Homo sapiens: one gene and its partner. The protein of the gene in region 1 purifies or fractionates together with the protein of each later gene. This does not show direct contact. Each region holds a gene or a part of one and is shown in the gene's direction. Other genes may lie near its edges.

Region 1 (7,026 bases):
CTAAGGCATGAGCCATCATGCCTGGCCAAATTTTTGTATTTTTAGTAGGGACAGAGTTTCACTATGTTGGCCAGGCTGGTCTTGAGCTCCTGACCTCAAGCGATCTGACTGCCTCAGCCTCCCAAAGTGCTGAGATTACAGGCATGATCCACTGCTCCTGGCCGTGCCTGGCTTTCTAACTTGGTCTTTCAGGCGTGAGCCACTGTGCCCAGCCTAGATGATTCATCTTCTGTCGGAAGAAACATATCAAACCGTTTTGTCTCTTAGACTGGAGGCTCTATGGGTGGTAGGGAATGCATCTGATTTGTTCACTATTGAATCTAGCACATATAGTGTGCAATAAAAATGCTTGCTGAATGTACTGATTATATACTGTCATTTAATTTTTCACAAATTTGTACAATTGGATTGTTTTTAGGTTTTTTCTCTTTTTCAAATAATGTAGGTATAAGCATTTTGAACAGGTAAAATTTCCTTTCATTCATGTATTTTTTGGACCATATTTGTTAATGTAGAAGTCCCAAATTGAAGCGTTGAGCACTTTCATGACTCTTGCTACAAACTGTCAAATTGAATTTCAGAAAAATTTGCTTTAGTTTATGTTATGTCCAACTCTGTTTGAATATACCTGTTTCCTTGACACTCCACAAATACTGATTTTGTGGATTGATTTTTGTTTATTGATTTTTAAAATTTTTTTGGAGACAGAGTCTTGCTCTGTCACCCAGCCTGGAGTGTAGTGGCATGATCTTGGCCCACTGCAACTTCCTCCTCCCAGGTTTAAGTGATTCTCCCAACTCATCCTCCCGAGTAGCTGGGATTACAGGCGTGCACCAACACACCTAGCTAATTTTTGTATTTTTAGTAGAAACAAGGTTTCACCATGTTGGCTAAGCTGGTCTTGAGCTCTTGACCTCAGGTGATCTGCCTGCCTTGGCCTCCCAAAGTGCTGGGATTACAGGCGTGAGCCACTGAGCGCAGCCTATTTGTTAATTTTCATCCTCTGTTTGGTGAGCATGTGTTCTGGCATAGTGAACTGTTTTGTTTTTATTTATTTATTATTTTTTTGAGACGGAGTTTCGCTCTTGTTGCCCAGGCTGGAGTGCAATGGCATGATCTTGGCTCACCTCAACCTCCGCCTCCTGGGTTCAAGCAATTCTCCTGACTCAGCCTCCCGAGTAGCCGGAATTACAAGCATGCACCACCACGCCTGGCTAATTTTGTATTTTTAGTAGTGACAGGGTTTCTCCATGTTGGTCAGGCTGGTCTTGAACTCCCGACCTTAGGTGATCTGCCTGCCTCAGCCTCCCAAAGTGCTGGGATTACAGGCGTGAGCCACCATGCCTGGCTGTGAACTGTTTTATTAAAAACTTATATGCTGGGCATGGTGGCTCACGCCTGTAATCCCAGCACTTTGGGAGGCCGAGGTGGGTGGATCATCTGAGGTCAGGAGTTTAAGACCAGCCTGGCCAACATGGTGAAACCCCATTTCTACTAAAATACAAAAAATTAACCAGGCGTGGCGATGGGCGCCTGTCGTCCCAGCTACTCGGGAGGCTGAGGGAGGAGAATTGCTTGAACCCAGGAGTTGGAGGTTGCAGTGAGCCGAGATCATTGCGCCACTGTACTCCAGGCTGGGTTACAGAGCAAAACTCTGTCTCCAAAAAAAAGAAAAAGAAAAACAAAAAAACCTAACTTACAGTCTAAATTCTTTAGGTTCTCTGGTTTTTACGTCTTCCCTGTTTTTGGATAACCCTCATGGGTAGGAGCAGTGAAAATAGGAGAAATTCTAAATTGTTCACTTCGTGCCTGTTTAACAGCCATGGAAAATTTGTTTTGATACCTATAAGTTATCACATAGCTCATTTCTTTTCTTTTTTTTTTTTTTTTTTGAGATAGAGTTGCTCTGTCGCCGAGGTTGGAGTGCAGTGGTGTGATCTCAGCTCACTGCAATCTCCACCTCCTGGATTCAAGCGATTCTTCTGCCTCAGCCTTCCGAGTAGCTGGGATTACAGATGCATACCACCACACCCAGCTAATTTTTGTGTTTTTAGTAGAGACGGGGTTTCACCATGTTGGCCGGGATGGTCTTGATCTCCTGAGCTCGTGATGTGCCCGCCTGGGCCTCCCAAAGTGCTGGGGTTACAGGTGTGAGCCACCACACCTGGCCTCTTTTTTATTTTAAATTGTAGTGGAAAGGTTGGTGAAATTCTTGCCTCAAATGAGGCATAGGTTTACATTTACATAGATTGTTTGGGTTTCAGTAATTAATTTTCCAGTCATCCTTCATCTTGTCTAGAGTGTTTCGTTGCTGTGTTATAACTTCCTGAGGGAAGCTCTGGAAGTGGCAGTAGCTGGAACTGAATTGTTTAGAGACTCTGGGACAATGTGGCAGCTGAAGCTGCAGGTGCTGATCGAGTCAAAGAGCCCTGACATAGCCATGCTTTTTGAAGAAGCCTTTGTGCACCTGAAACCCCAGGTCAGTGAGCTGGATCTTTTGTATTCATTATATTTGGGAAACCTTTTAAGACTAGCCAAGGCTCATTTGGAATGTACTTGTCTATTGAGAGCCAACTCTAGAGTGGCATTTGCTATTCAGTGGTGATGGTTCATAGGTTAAGAGTAGAAGAATTTGCTTCTATTTAATATCCTTTATTTGAAAGTTAACCAAATTAAATAAAACTTCCTATTCTATTTAGATATCTTATAAAGTTAGAAATACCAGTAGAATATTAATGTCACTTGCTGAATATAAGCCCAACCTTTTTTTTTTTTTTTTTTAAGATGGAGTCTCGCTCTGTTGTCCAGGCTGGAGTGCAGTGGCGTGATCTCAGCTCACTGCAATCTCTGCCTCCCGGGTTCAGGCAATTCTCCTGCCTCAGCCTCCCGAGTAGCTGGGACTACAGGCGCATGCCATCACACCTGACTAATATTTTCTATTTTAGTAGAGACAGGATATCTCCATGTTGGCCAGGCTGGTCTGGAACTCCTAGCCTCAAGTGATCTGCCCGCCTTGGCCTCCCAAAGTGCTGAGATTACAGGCGTGAGCCACGGTGTATGGCCAGATTCACTTTGCAGTGAATTTTTTATATTAGTAGGTAAAACGTATTCCAGAAGATAAAGTAGGAAAAAAACTACTGCTCATTTGGTGGTTTTTCCTTTTTTTTGAGATGAAGTCTTGTTCTGTTGCCCAGGCTGGAGTGCAGTGGTGCAAACTTGGCTCACTGCAACCTCCACCTCCCAGGTTCAAGCGATTCTCCTGTCTCAGCCTCCCAAGTAGCTGGGATAAGAAGTGCCCACCACCATGCCCAGCTAATTTTTGTATTTTTAGTAGAGACAGGGTTTTGCCATGTTGGCCAGGCTGGTCTTGAACTCCTGGCCTCAAGTGATCCGCCTGCCTCCGTCTTTAAAGTGCTGGGATTGCAAATGTGCGCCACCATGCCTCGCTTTTGCTGCTCATTTGTACGTACCTCTGGGACATGAATGAAGATCAGATAGTTCAGCCTAGATTAATTAGTTCTTGTGTTGTGGGTCTTAGACAGCAGAGACATGACCTGGGTAGCTGTGGGTCTAACTGTGTGGGCTGTTAATTACTTACTTAACTAAAAGATGATTGATGATAACTACATGAAATATTTCCCAATAGAAAGGAACTAAAATTCACAGAAGAGTGTTGCTCTGAGTGACTTGGTCAGAAGGCTGGCTGTGTTCTGGAGTGCCATTCCTGCTGGGCAATGAGAATTCTGTCACAATGAGGACTGTTTGGGAATGAATCCCTATTTTACATGTTGATTATCTTAGGAGGAACCTGCCTTTTTAACTAGTTTTCAGAGCATAGGACTAAACTGTCATTTTATAGCATAAAAAAATTGATACATAATATTTTACATATTTATAGGGTACATGCGATGTTTTGTTATATGCTGTTCTCTAACTAACATTTTTTAAACTGGGAGTAGGTTTGTCTGCCATTGTGGATTTCCTGGGCAGAGTGGAGTGAAGGTGCCAAAAGCCAAGAAGACACTGAGGCAGTCTTTAAGGTATAGGCTCCGTGTTCCAAGTCTTGTGGTGTGGGGAATGGCAGAAGGTTCCCTGGTTGGTCAGCTCTAGTGTTGCAGGTGCGCCTAAAGCACTATGGAGTGGCCTCAGGTGGTTCTGGGAAAATCTGTTTTGGTATCTATAAGTTTTCTCACATAGCTTCTTTCTTTTTTCTTTTAAATTGTAGAAAGCTCTCTTAGCTGTCATAGGTGCCGACTCAGTAACCCTGAAGAATAAGTACCTGGATTGGGCTTATCGAAGTGGTGGCTACAAAAAGGCCAGAGCTGTGTTTAAAAGGTACTCACAGACGTTCATAGTTGTTACTAGTCCCTCTACCCCATGCTCAGCCGCTCATACCCAGATTATTTGAATCACAGATAGCATCTGAGGGAGTAATCTGATACACTTTTTCTTTTTTTTTAAGATGGAGTCTTGCTCTGTTGCCCAGGCTGGAGTGCAGTGGCACAATCTCTGCTCACTGCAATCTCCGCCTCCTGCGTTCAAGTGATTCTCCTGCCTCGGCTTCCCGAGTAGCTAGGATTACAGGCACCTGCCACCACGCCTGGCTAATTTTTAAATTTTAGATTTTAAAGACAAGGTTTCACCATGTTGGCCAGGCTGGTCTCAAACTCCTAACCTCAGGTGATCTGCCCACCTCAGCCTCCCAAAGTGCAGGGATTACAGGCATGAGGCACCACACCTGACCCAATACACTGTTTCATTTTCCTTTTTTTTTGTTTTTTTTTTGTTTTTTTGAGACAGTGATTCTCCCGCCTTAGCCTCCTGAATAGCTGGGATTACAGATGTGTGACACCACGCCCGGCTAATTTTGTAATTTAGTAGAGACGGTTTCATCATGTTGGCCAGGCTGGTCTCGAACTGCTGATCTCAAGTGATTTGCTTGTCTTGGCCTCTCAAAGTGCTGGGATTACAGGCATGAGCCAGTGCATTTGGCCTCCAGTGAACTTTTTCAAAAAGTAATGTTTCCTTTTCTTTTTTGAGACAGGTTCTCGCTCTGTCACCTAGGTTAGAGTGTAGTGGCACAATCATGGTTCACCGAAGCCTTGACCTTCTGGGCTCAAGCAGTCCGCCCACCTCAGCCTCCCAAATGTCTGGGTCTACAGGCATGTACCACCATGTCCAGCTAACTTAAAACATTTTTTTTTTTTGGTAGAGACTGAGTCTCACAACATTGTTCAGCCTGGTCTCAAACTCCTGGGCTCAAGCAGTCCTCCTGCCTCAGCCTCCCAAAGTGCTAGGATTATAAGTGTAAGCCACCATGCCTGGCCTTCTTTTTCTTTTTTTTGAACAATAAAAGCAGTTCATTGTGGTGGGGGAAAACATAACCATGATAATTTATTACATCATCGAAGGAAAAATTACTGTTAACACATAATTTTAAAATTTGTTTTTATGTAGTTGAGATTATAGTATAACTGTAATTTTATTTATGATTTAAAAAAAATTTCTTTTTTTTTTTGAGATGGAGTCTCACTGTGTTGCCCAGGCTGGAGTGCAGTGGTACAGTCTCGGCTCACTGCAACTTCTGCCTCCCGGGTTCAAGCGATTCTCCTGCCTCAGCCTCCTGAGTAGCTGGGATTACAGGCATGTGCCACGACGCCCGGCTAATTTTTTATATTTTTAGTAGATAAGGGTTTTTGCCATGTTGGCTAGGCTGGTCTCGAACTCCTGACCTCTGGTGACCTGCCCGCCTCGGCCTCCCTAAGTGTTGGGATTACAGGTGTGAGCCACTGTGCCCGGCCTAAATATTTTTTTTTTCTTTGAGACAGAGTCTTGCTCTGTTGCCCAGGCTGAGTGTAATGGCGCCATCTTGGCTCACTGCAAACTCTGCCTTCCTGGTTCAAGTGATTCTTGTGCGTTAGCTTCCCAAGTAGCTGGGACTACAGGTGTGTGCCACCACACCCAGGTAATTTTTTATTTTTAGTAGAGATGGGGTTTCACTGTGTTGCCCAGGCTGGTCTTGAACTCCTGGGCCCAAGCAATCTGCCCAGCTCAGCCTCCCAAAATGCTGGGATTACAGGCATGAGCTACCATGCCTGGCGATGCCCCGCTAATTCTTAAATTTTTTTGCAGAGTCAGGGTCTCGCCTTGTTGCTTAAACTGATCTTGACCTTATGGCTTCCAGTGATCTTCCTGCCTTGGCCTCCCAAAGGGCTGGGATTGTAGGTATGAGGCACTGTGCCCAGCCAAAAATTCTTTATAAACATCATTTATTAAACATAGCTATATGAGCTGGGCACGGTGGTTCAAGGCCTCTAATCTCAGGATTTTGGGAGACTGAGACAAGAGGATTGCTTGATCCCAAGCATTTGAGACGAGCGTGGGCAACACAACGAGACTTCATTTCTATGAAAAGTTAAAAGGCCGGGTGCGGTGGCTCATGCCTGTAATCCTAGCACTTTAGGAGGCCGAGGCGGGCGGATCACAAGGTCAGGAGTTCGAGACCATCCTGGCTAACACGATGAAACCCCGTCTCTACTAAAAAAAATACAAAAAATTAGCCGGGCGTGGTGGCAGGCGCCTGTATTCCCAGCTACTTGGGAGGCTAAGGCAGGAGCATGGCGTGAACCTGGGAGGCGGAGCTTTCAGTGAGCTGAGATCGCGCCACTGCATTCCAGCCTGGGCGACAGAGCAAGACTCCATCTCAAAAAAAAAAAAAAAAAAAACTTAAAAAGTTGGGTGTCATGGCATGTGCCTGTGATTTTAGCTACTTGGGAAGCTGAAGTCAGAGGATCACTTGAGTCCAGGTGGTTGAGGCTGTAGTGAGCCGTGTTTGTGCTAGTACACTCCAGCCTTGGTGACAGAGTGAGACCCTGTCTCAAAACAAAAACATCCAGGTGCGGTGGCTCATGCCTGTAATCCCAGCACTTTGGGAGGTCGAGGCAGACGGATCACGAGGTCAGGAGATCGAGACCATCCTGGCTAATATGGTGAAACCCTGTCTCTACTAAAAATACAAAAAAAATT
Region 2 (7,382 bases), on another chromosome or scaffold:
AAAAATACTAGTTTTCTCACTTTTTTGATACTATTAAATACGTTAAATATATGTTCAAACAATATAATACATTGTTATAATTAATTCACATAATTTTATGTCTTTTAAAGAAGCTGAAGGGGAAGGTATAAATGTATAGAGCTTGTTATGTTAACTTACAGTTTCAGGTTCTCTTAATGTATTCCTGGGGGTTCAAGTTAACATCTGCTGTCATTTCTTTATTCCAATGCAGCTTCGCTCCTACTGTCCTCTCTTGTCCTGTTCTTAAGTATATCACGTTTCTATATGTTATGAGCCTGAAACACAATTATATACATATTGCTTTATACAACTGTCTTTTAAAAATTAGTTAAAAAGAGAAATAAGAAGAAATATGCATTTATACAGTCTTTTATAACTATATAATTATCTTACTGGTGCTCTTTGTTTGTCCATGTGGATGTGTATTGCCATCTGGAGTCATCTGCTTTCTGCCTGAAAACCTTCTTTTATTAATAGTATTTCTTGTAAAGTCAGTCATCTAGTAGTAAATTTTATTTATGTTTCCAGGCTTGAATCTCCCCCCGGCCCACACTCTTTTTCAAATAAAGTCAGTTTCTGTGGGAAAAGCTTTGGAGCTCTGATTTTATGGACTGCCTCTCTCTCTCTGGAAAATATCTCTGAGCCATGACCCCTTCGAATGGGCAGAGGTGGTAGCTTCTGCTCTTTGCCAGTTGCCCCTCCCAACACGGAAAAACCACCCTACAAGTGAACCAGAGTGAGGGTGACAGGCCAGGGTTTCTCATTCTGCCATTCCTGAGCTAAAGCTGAAATCTTCTTGCAAAAATTATAACTGAGAATATTATTATGTGAAAGAGATCTGACCTGACTCTATCTTACTTCTAACCTCCAAGCTGTCCTTGTTCATCCCTGAGCATAGGCCAAACTGACATTGGAAGGAATTTAGTCAGCCTTTTCCCAAAATAAAACCCCTTCTTCCCTGAGAACTAGACTAACTTTGCAAGACTAACAAATCAGCCATGAGATTAGAAACTGTGGTCTGAGAGTCATGCAGCTAGAGGCCACAAGATTCCAGACCTCTCCAATTGCCATCCAGGTCAATAAACTGGCTCATCTGGTCTTGTGGCCCCCAGCCAGGAACCAACTCATGCAAGAGGACAACTTTGATGCCCTGTGATTTCATCCCTAACCCAGCCAATCAGCACTCCCCACTCCCCAACCTCCTACCCACCAAATTATCCTCAGAAACCCCCATACCCACATTATCAGGGAGAATCTTTTGAGTAATAATAAAACTTGAGAATCCCATACAGCCAGCTCTGCGTGAATTAAACGCTTTCTCTACTGCAATTCCCCTGTCTTGATAAATCAGCTCTACCTAGGCAACAGGCAAGGAGAACCTGTTGGGCAGTTATGGAGCCTCTGCTCTATGAGTGGGACTGGGAAAGTTTGGGAGCCCTTGACTTCTGGTCACACTCACCAGAAATTTAGTCTTTACAACTCACTATTGGAGGGGATGAAAAATTCTGGTGGACTGGCACTCCTGATAGGATATGTCATCCCTGCTCAGAATGTGAGAGAAGAGGCAGCCCCACCTTCTTTCCATAGCCCCCAGTAGTGGACCTTTTGTCAACCCGAACTGAAAATGAGGATGAAGAGGCCCAAGGGTCAAGTGCCACAGATTCTTGTTATTCTTACCGGAGTTATAGGAGCTCTCCTTGAATAGATGTTTCATTGTGATGTATGCTTCCTGTGGGGAAAAGCAAGAGAGATCAGATTGTCACTGTGTCTGTGTAGAAAGAAGTAGACATGGGAGACTCCATTTTGTTATGTACTAAGAAAAATTCTTCTGCCTTGAGATTCTGTGACCTTACCCCCAACCCCGTGCTCTCTGAAACATGTGCTGTGTCAAACTCAGGGTTAAATGGATTAAGGGCGGTGCAAGATGTGCTTTGTTAAACAGATGCTTGAAGGCAGCACGCTCCTTAAGAGTCATCACCACTCCCTAATCTCAAGTACCCAGGGACACAAAAACTGTGGAAGGCCTCAGGGACCTCTGCCTAGGAAAGCCAGGTATTGTCCAAGGTTTCCCCCCATGTGATAGTCTGAAATATGGCCTTGTGGGAAGGGAAAGACCTGACCGTCCCCCAGCCCGACACCCGTAAAGGGTCTGTGCTGAGGAGGATTAGTATAAGAGGAAGGCATGCCTCTTGCAGTTGAGACAAGAGGAAGGCATCTGTCTCCTGCCCGTCCCTGGGCAATGGAATGTCTCGGTATAAAACCCGATTGTATGTTCCATCTACTGAGATAGGGAAAAACCACCTTAAGGCTGGAGGTGGGACATGCGGGCAGCAATACTGCTTTGTAAAGCATTGAGATGTTTATGTGTATGCGTATCTAAAAGCACAGCACTTAATCCTTTACCTTGTCTATGATGCAAAGACCTTTGTTCACGTGTTTGTCTGCTGACCCTCTCCCCACAATTGTCTTGTGACCCTGACACATCCCCCTCTCGGAGAAACACCCACGAATGATCAATAAATACTAAGGGAACTCAGAGGCTGGCGGGATCCTCCATATGCTGAACGCTGGTTCCCCGGCTCCCCTTATTTCTTTCTCTCTACTTTGTCTCTGTGTCTTTTTCTTTCCTAAGTCTCTCGTTCCACCTTACGAGAAACACCCACAGGTGTGGAGGGGCAACCCACCCCTACACTTCCAGGACAATCTGCAGAGATTTTAAATGGTTCAAATAATTTTGACAGATGTAAGAATGTTATGCTCTAAAAAGTAAAAGACTTTAAAGTAGTTTTAATAATAAAGGAGCTACAGTGTTAAGGAAGGATGATAGAAAGAGTTTAGATAAAATTATTTTACAAAGTATGAATGAGAAAAGACACTGTATCTGCAATTTATATACATCTAATATATAATTTTAATGTGTAAGTGAGAAATGCTTGGCCAGGCCTGGTGGCTCACACTTGTAATCCCAGCACTTTGGGAGGCCAAGGTGGGTGGATCATCTGAGGTCGGGAGTTCGAGACCAGCCTGACCACCATGGAGAAACCCCATCTCTACTAAAAATACAAAATTAGCCAGGATAGTGGTACATGCCTGTAGTCCCAGCTACTTGGGAGGCTGAGGCAGGAGAATTGATTGAACCCAGGAGGCGGAGGTTGCAGTGAGCCGAGATCGTGCCACTGCACTCCAGCCTGGGCAACAAGAGTGAAACTCCATCTCAAAAAAAAAAAAAAAAAAAAAGAAAAAGAAAAAGAAAAAAAAAGAAATGCTCACACAAGGTTGGGTCTGGTGGCTCATGCCTATAATCCCAGCAATTTGGGAGGCCGAGGCAGGGGGATCATTTGAAGGAAGGAGTTCAAGACCAACCTAAGCAACAAAGTGAAACCACATCACTATAAATATATTTTTAAATGAAATGTTCACTCAGGCTTTTTACTATTTTATTTGCTTTTGCTGTAAAATAGAGATAATGCCACTTATTCTGTATGCTAGAAGTCATTACTGAATTAGACATAAAACACAAACAGCTCTTAGAAAACAATCTATAAAAATAAAATCACACTATAATAAATTTAAAAATAAAAAACCTATAAATAAAATATTTCTACAATTTTTCACTTAGTAAATAAGCAGCATAGTGAAGTGGTTCAAGAAGAGGGTATGGGATCATGAGTGCTTGGGTTCAGATTAGTTACAGTGTTATGATTTTAGACAACTAATAAAGTCTTTCTGTGCTCAGTTTCTATAAAACCATGAGGAAATATTATGAGTTTTCAGTTGTGCGATTCATGTAAAGCCATCAGTACTGAGCCTAGAACATGAGTACAACACATGGAGCCCCCTCCTGGCTGTGTGCTGGGCATTAAGTGCCAGGGGTTAGGTGTTCATGAGTGTGTTAAACATGTCCTTTCCTTATGTACTGCACCTCTCAAAGAATAGGCAGCTCCATTGAGAGTGTGTCTATTATTTTAGGAAATTGTAGCTGAAAATTAACATGATGCCTCCTCATTCTAGGTTTCTCAAATTGACTCAATCCATGAGACATGTATCATTGTATTCAAAACCTAATGGGCATTTTGTTAGACAACAAATGGTCTCTAAGATTTCCAACAACAACAAAAAAAATTTGAAGCTTCTGGTTGAGAAATCTTTAAACCCTCCCACTGGCACACTCCACTAATTCCATTTATGGTAGTGGAGTCAGTGATTTGAACGAAGTACTTTCAGTTTCATATTACTCTAAATCCATTACAAATCTGCTTAGCTTCTAAATATTTCATCAATGAGGAAATCCCAGCCCTACAACTTCGGAACAGTGAAATATTAGTCCAGGGATCCAGTGAGAGACACAGAAGTGCTAGAAGCCAGTGCTCGTGAACTAAGGAGAAAAAGAACAGGTAAGAACTTTTACTACTTCTCATCAAGCAGCTTTCTCTCTAGCTCCAAAGGATCTCAGCTCAGTGATATGGAACCTATAAGGTTGTGGCAGGGATGGGAAGGAATTTATAAAGGTCAGTTCATTTTCTTAAACATCATCAGAACCAAATTAGGCTGCAGATGAGCCTGAAGTGGGACGCAGGTCAGATGAAATCCTGGTGTTATCAGGGACAGCATGGCCTTAAGTGCCACTACAGTGCTTGTGTTGAATTAGGCACCAGTAGACAGGGGCTAAACTGAGCATTTGAAATGTACTAGGATAGTCTTTCTCTTTGTTGACATTATCTATGTTGACTAGGGATATGATTACATTTCCATCGTCAGTGATGGACTGAATCCTGCTTCTATGCAGCTAAGAAATGGAAGAGTTACAAACGGGTTCTTTTCATGGAAGGAAAGAACAGCAAATGAGAAGCAGAGTAAGCAGCCCACTGACACGGTTAAAGACAAAGAAAAAACTGAAACTCAGCCTGAAAGATGAAGATTCATGAAAACAGTATACTTTTTATTACACTTGTGAACTTTGTTTCAGAATGGATTACTTTCTTTAGAAATAGTCCAGACTCACTAATTTCCTAGTGCCCACTGATCCCTGTCCCTTAGAAGTGAAATTCAACCCCACTGCTTCACTGAAGTGCTTCCAATTTTGTCTTCTTTTAGTAGAGAGCAGGGCCAAAAGTGTTTCCTCTTTAATTCTCCTGTAATGCATCTCTACAGAAAATATCTTTGCTTACTTTAACCTCTCCATGCACTCAGACTACTTTGATCCTGCCTTCTGCAAAGTCTTCCCCTGAATGCCTTGTCAAGACACTAGCCTCATTCATCACCTCTGGTCTGACAGCTCCTCTCTCTCTCTCTCTCTCTCTCTCTCTCTCTCTCACACACACACACACACACACACACACACACACACACACACATTCCCAGCCCCTTATCCTCCTCTCCACTCCTACTATTCCTCCTCTTTCTATTTCTCTTTCTCCTACCCTACCAAATGGAAAACAGAACAAAACAGAAATCCTAAAGCTGTATCGCTGGAAATATATTTTATTTGAACAACTTCCTAGGTAGCTCTCTTTATCTGCCTCTTGATCTTTTAATCCTTATTATCTGGAGGAAACATTCAGTATTTGCAATTTTGCATTCATACCCTCAGTGACTTAGAAGCTATCTTATCGTGACTCTAATGAAGCTTAAGTTTCAGGGCCCTTCTCTTGGACATGACCCTTAGGAGCCCTTGGAAGGTTCCCTAGCCATGTGTTTCACATGGTTGTATAGTTTTATAAAATTTGCAAAAGTATGTTACATTGTTACCACTTCCAGAATGGCAATGTGAGAAGCTTTGTCAATCCTCATTGCAGTGAAATAAGCATAATCATTTGAAGATGGAGGAAGGAACACATTTAAAAATCTTTGGAAATTTTTCTAAGGGTAAACATCAAACTATGAATACTGATTCACTGTGTTGGATGTTTATTCACTGTGAGAATTAATAAGTGAATCAATATTGAATTCCTTACATACAGCCAGGATGCAAATAAATCCTCTAAATCCTATTCTATCTTCCATTAATTGACTAGTGAAAATATCTAATAAGAATCCAAAAAGAAAGTTTTCCACAATAAACTAAATGAAATATTTGGGTCGTGAGAGTAGTTGAGTGTTGATAAGTCACTGTCATGCTAACATTTTTCATAATGAGCTACTTTGACAATACTTCCATAACTTTCTCAAATGATACAGATTTTGCCTCATCTCTTTTGCTGTCACACACAAAACTTTTGGCCATACTGGGGAATCTTATGATTCTCCCTTATAATTGCAAAACACTAGAAATTCTCATGTATTTCACCTCTTCTCTTGCAGACAAGGGAACAGCCTGGACATGGCATCAGAGATCCACATGACAGGCCCAATGTGCCTCATTGAGAACACTAATGGGCGACTGATGGCGAATCCAGAAGCTCTGAAGATCCTTTCTGCCATTACACAGCCTATGGTGGTGGTGGCAATTGTGGGCCTCTACCGCACAGGCAAATCCTACCTGATGAACAAGCTGGCTGGAAAGAAAAAGGGTGAGTGGCATGAGCAAAGCTCTGCCAAGTCCCTTCTGTCCATCTACACAGTCAGCCTCCATTATGAAGATGTGAGGAGAGAAAGAGATGAGGATGAATACTGAAAGCTAACTTTCCATTCACAGTCGGGCTCCTTATCTTCACGCTGTTCTAGGGGATAAGAATCAATTCATTAATTATTCCCATGATACCTTAGTTTCCATTTCAAAAGCACAAATTATGCCTCTCCTAAAAGGAGTAAGACAGTAATAAAAATAATTAATGTACATAATAATAACTATAATAAACTATACAATGTTTATTACAATTTTTATGCAATAACAGAGTTCACAGTGATCTTTAAGGTTGAAAAAATGTTTCAATCTGTAGTGGATATTATTTTTTGTTGTTGTAAAAAAAATAAAATTTAACCTCGTAACCATTTTTAAGTGTACAGCTCTGTAGCATTAATGAAATTCACATTGTTATACAGCTGTCACCTCCATCCATATCCAGAAATCTTTCATCTTGCCTAACAGAAACTGTATTAACTAAACAAAAGCTCCACATAAACCCATTGCCTGCCATCATTCTACATTCTATCTCTATGAATTTGACTACTACAGAAACCTTATATAAGTGGAATCATTCAATATTTGTCCTTTTATGACTGGCTTATTTCAATTCATATGTCTTCAAGGTTCATCAGTGTGTTAGCATGTGTCAAAACTCTTCCTTTTTAAGGCTTAGTAATTGTACGTGTATACTAATTTGTTTATCTCTTCATCTGTCAATGGACACTTGGATTTCTTCCACCTTTTGTCTATTATAAATAATGCTAATAGGAACATGGGTGTCTGAATATCTGTTCAA

What was found. The genes of interacting proteins can lie anywhere in the genome.
Region 2: the proteins of UTP6 (region 1) and GBP1 purify together in Homo sapiens (affinity purification with mass spectrometry; 2 studies listed by BioGRID and IntAct, with this or other methods). This does not show direct contact.

Annotation. Positions count from the first base shown.
Region 1 is NC_000017.11:31,870,687-31,877,712, reverse strand, and holds part of UTP6 (U3 small nucleolar RNA-associated protein 6 homolog), read left to right. Parts: intron 1-2,299; coding exon 2,300-2,479; intron 2,480-3,959; coding exon 3,960-4,040; intron 4,041-4,225; coding exon 4,226-4,335; intron 4,336-7,026. UniProt on the Homo sapiens protein: Part of the small subunit (SSU) processome, first precursor of the small eukaryotic ribosomal subunit.
Region 2 is NC_000001.11:89,062,193-89,069,574, reverse strand, and holds the start of GBP1 (guanylate-binding protein 1), read left to right. Parts: upstream 1-4,366; 5' UTR 4,367-4,415; intron 4,416-6,321; 5' UTR 6,322-6,340; coding exon 6,341-6,530; intron 6,531-7,382.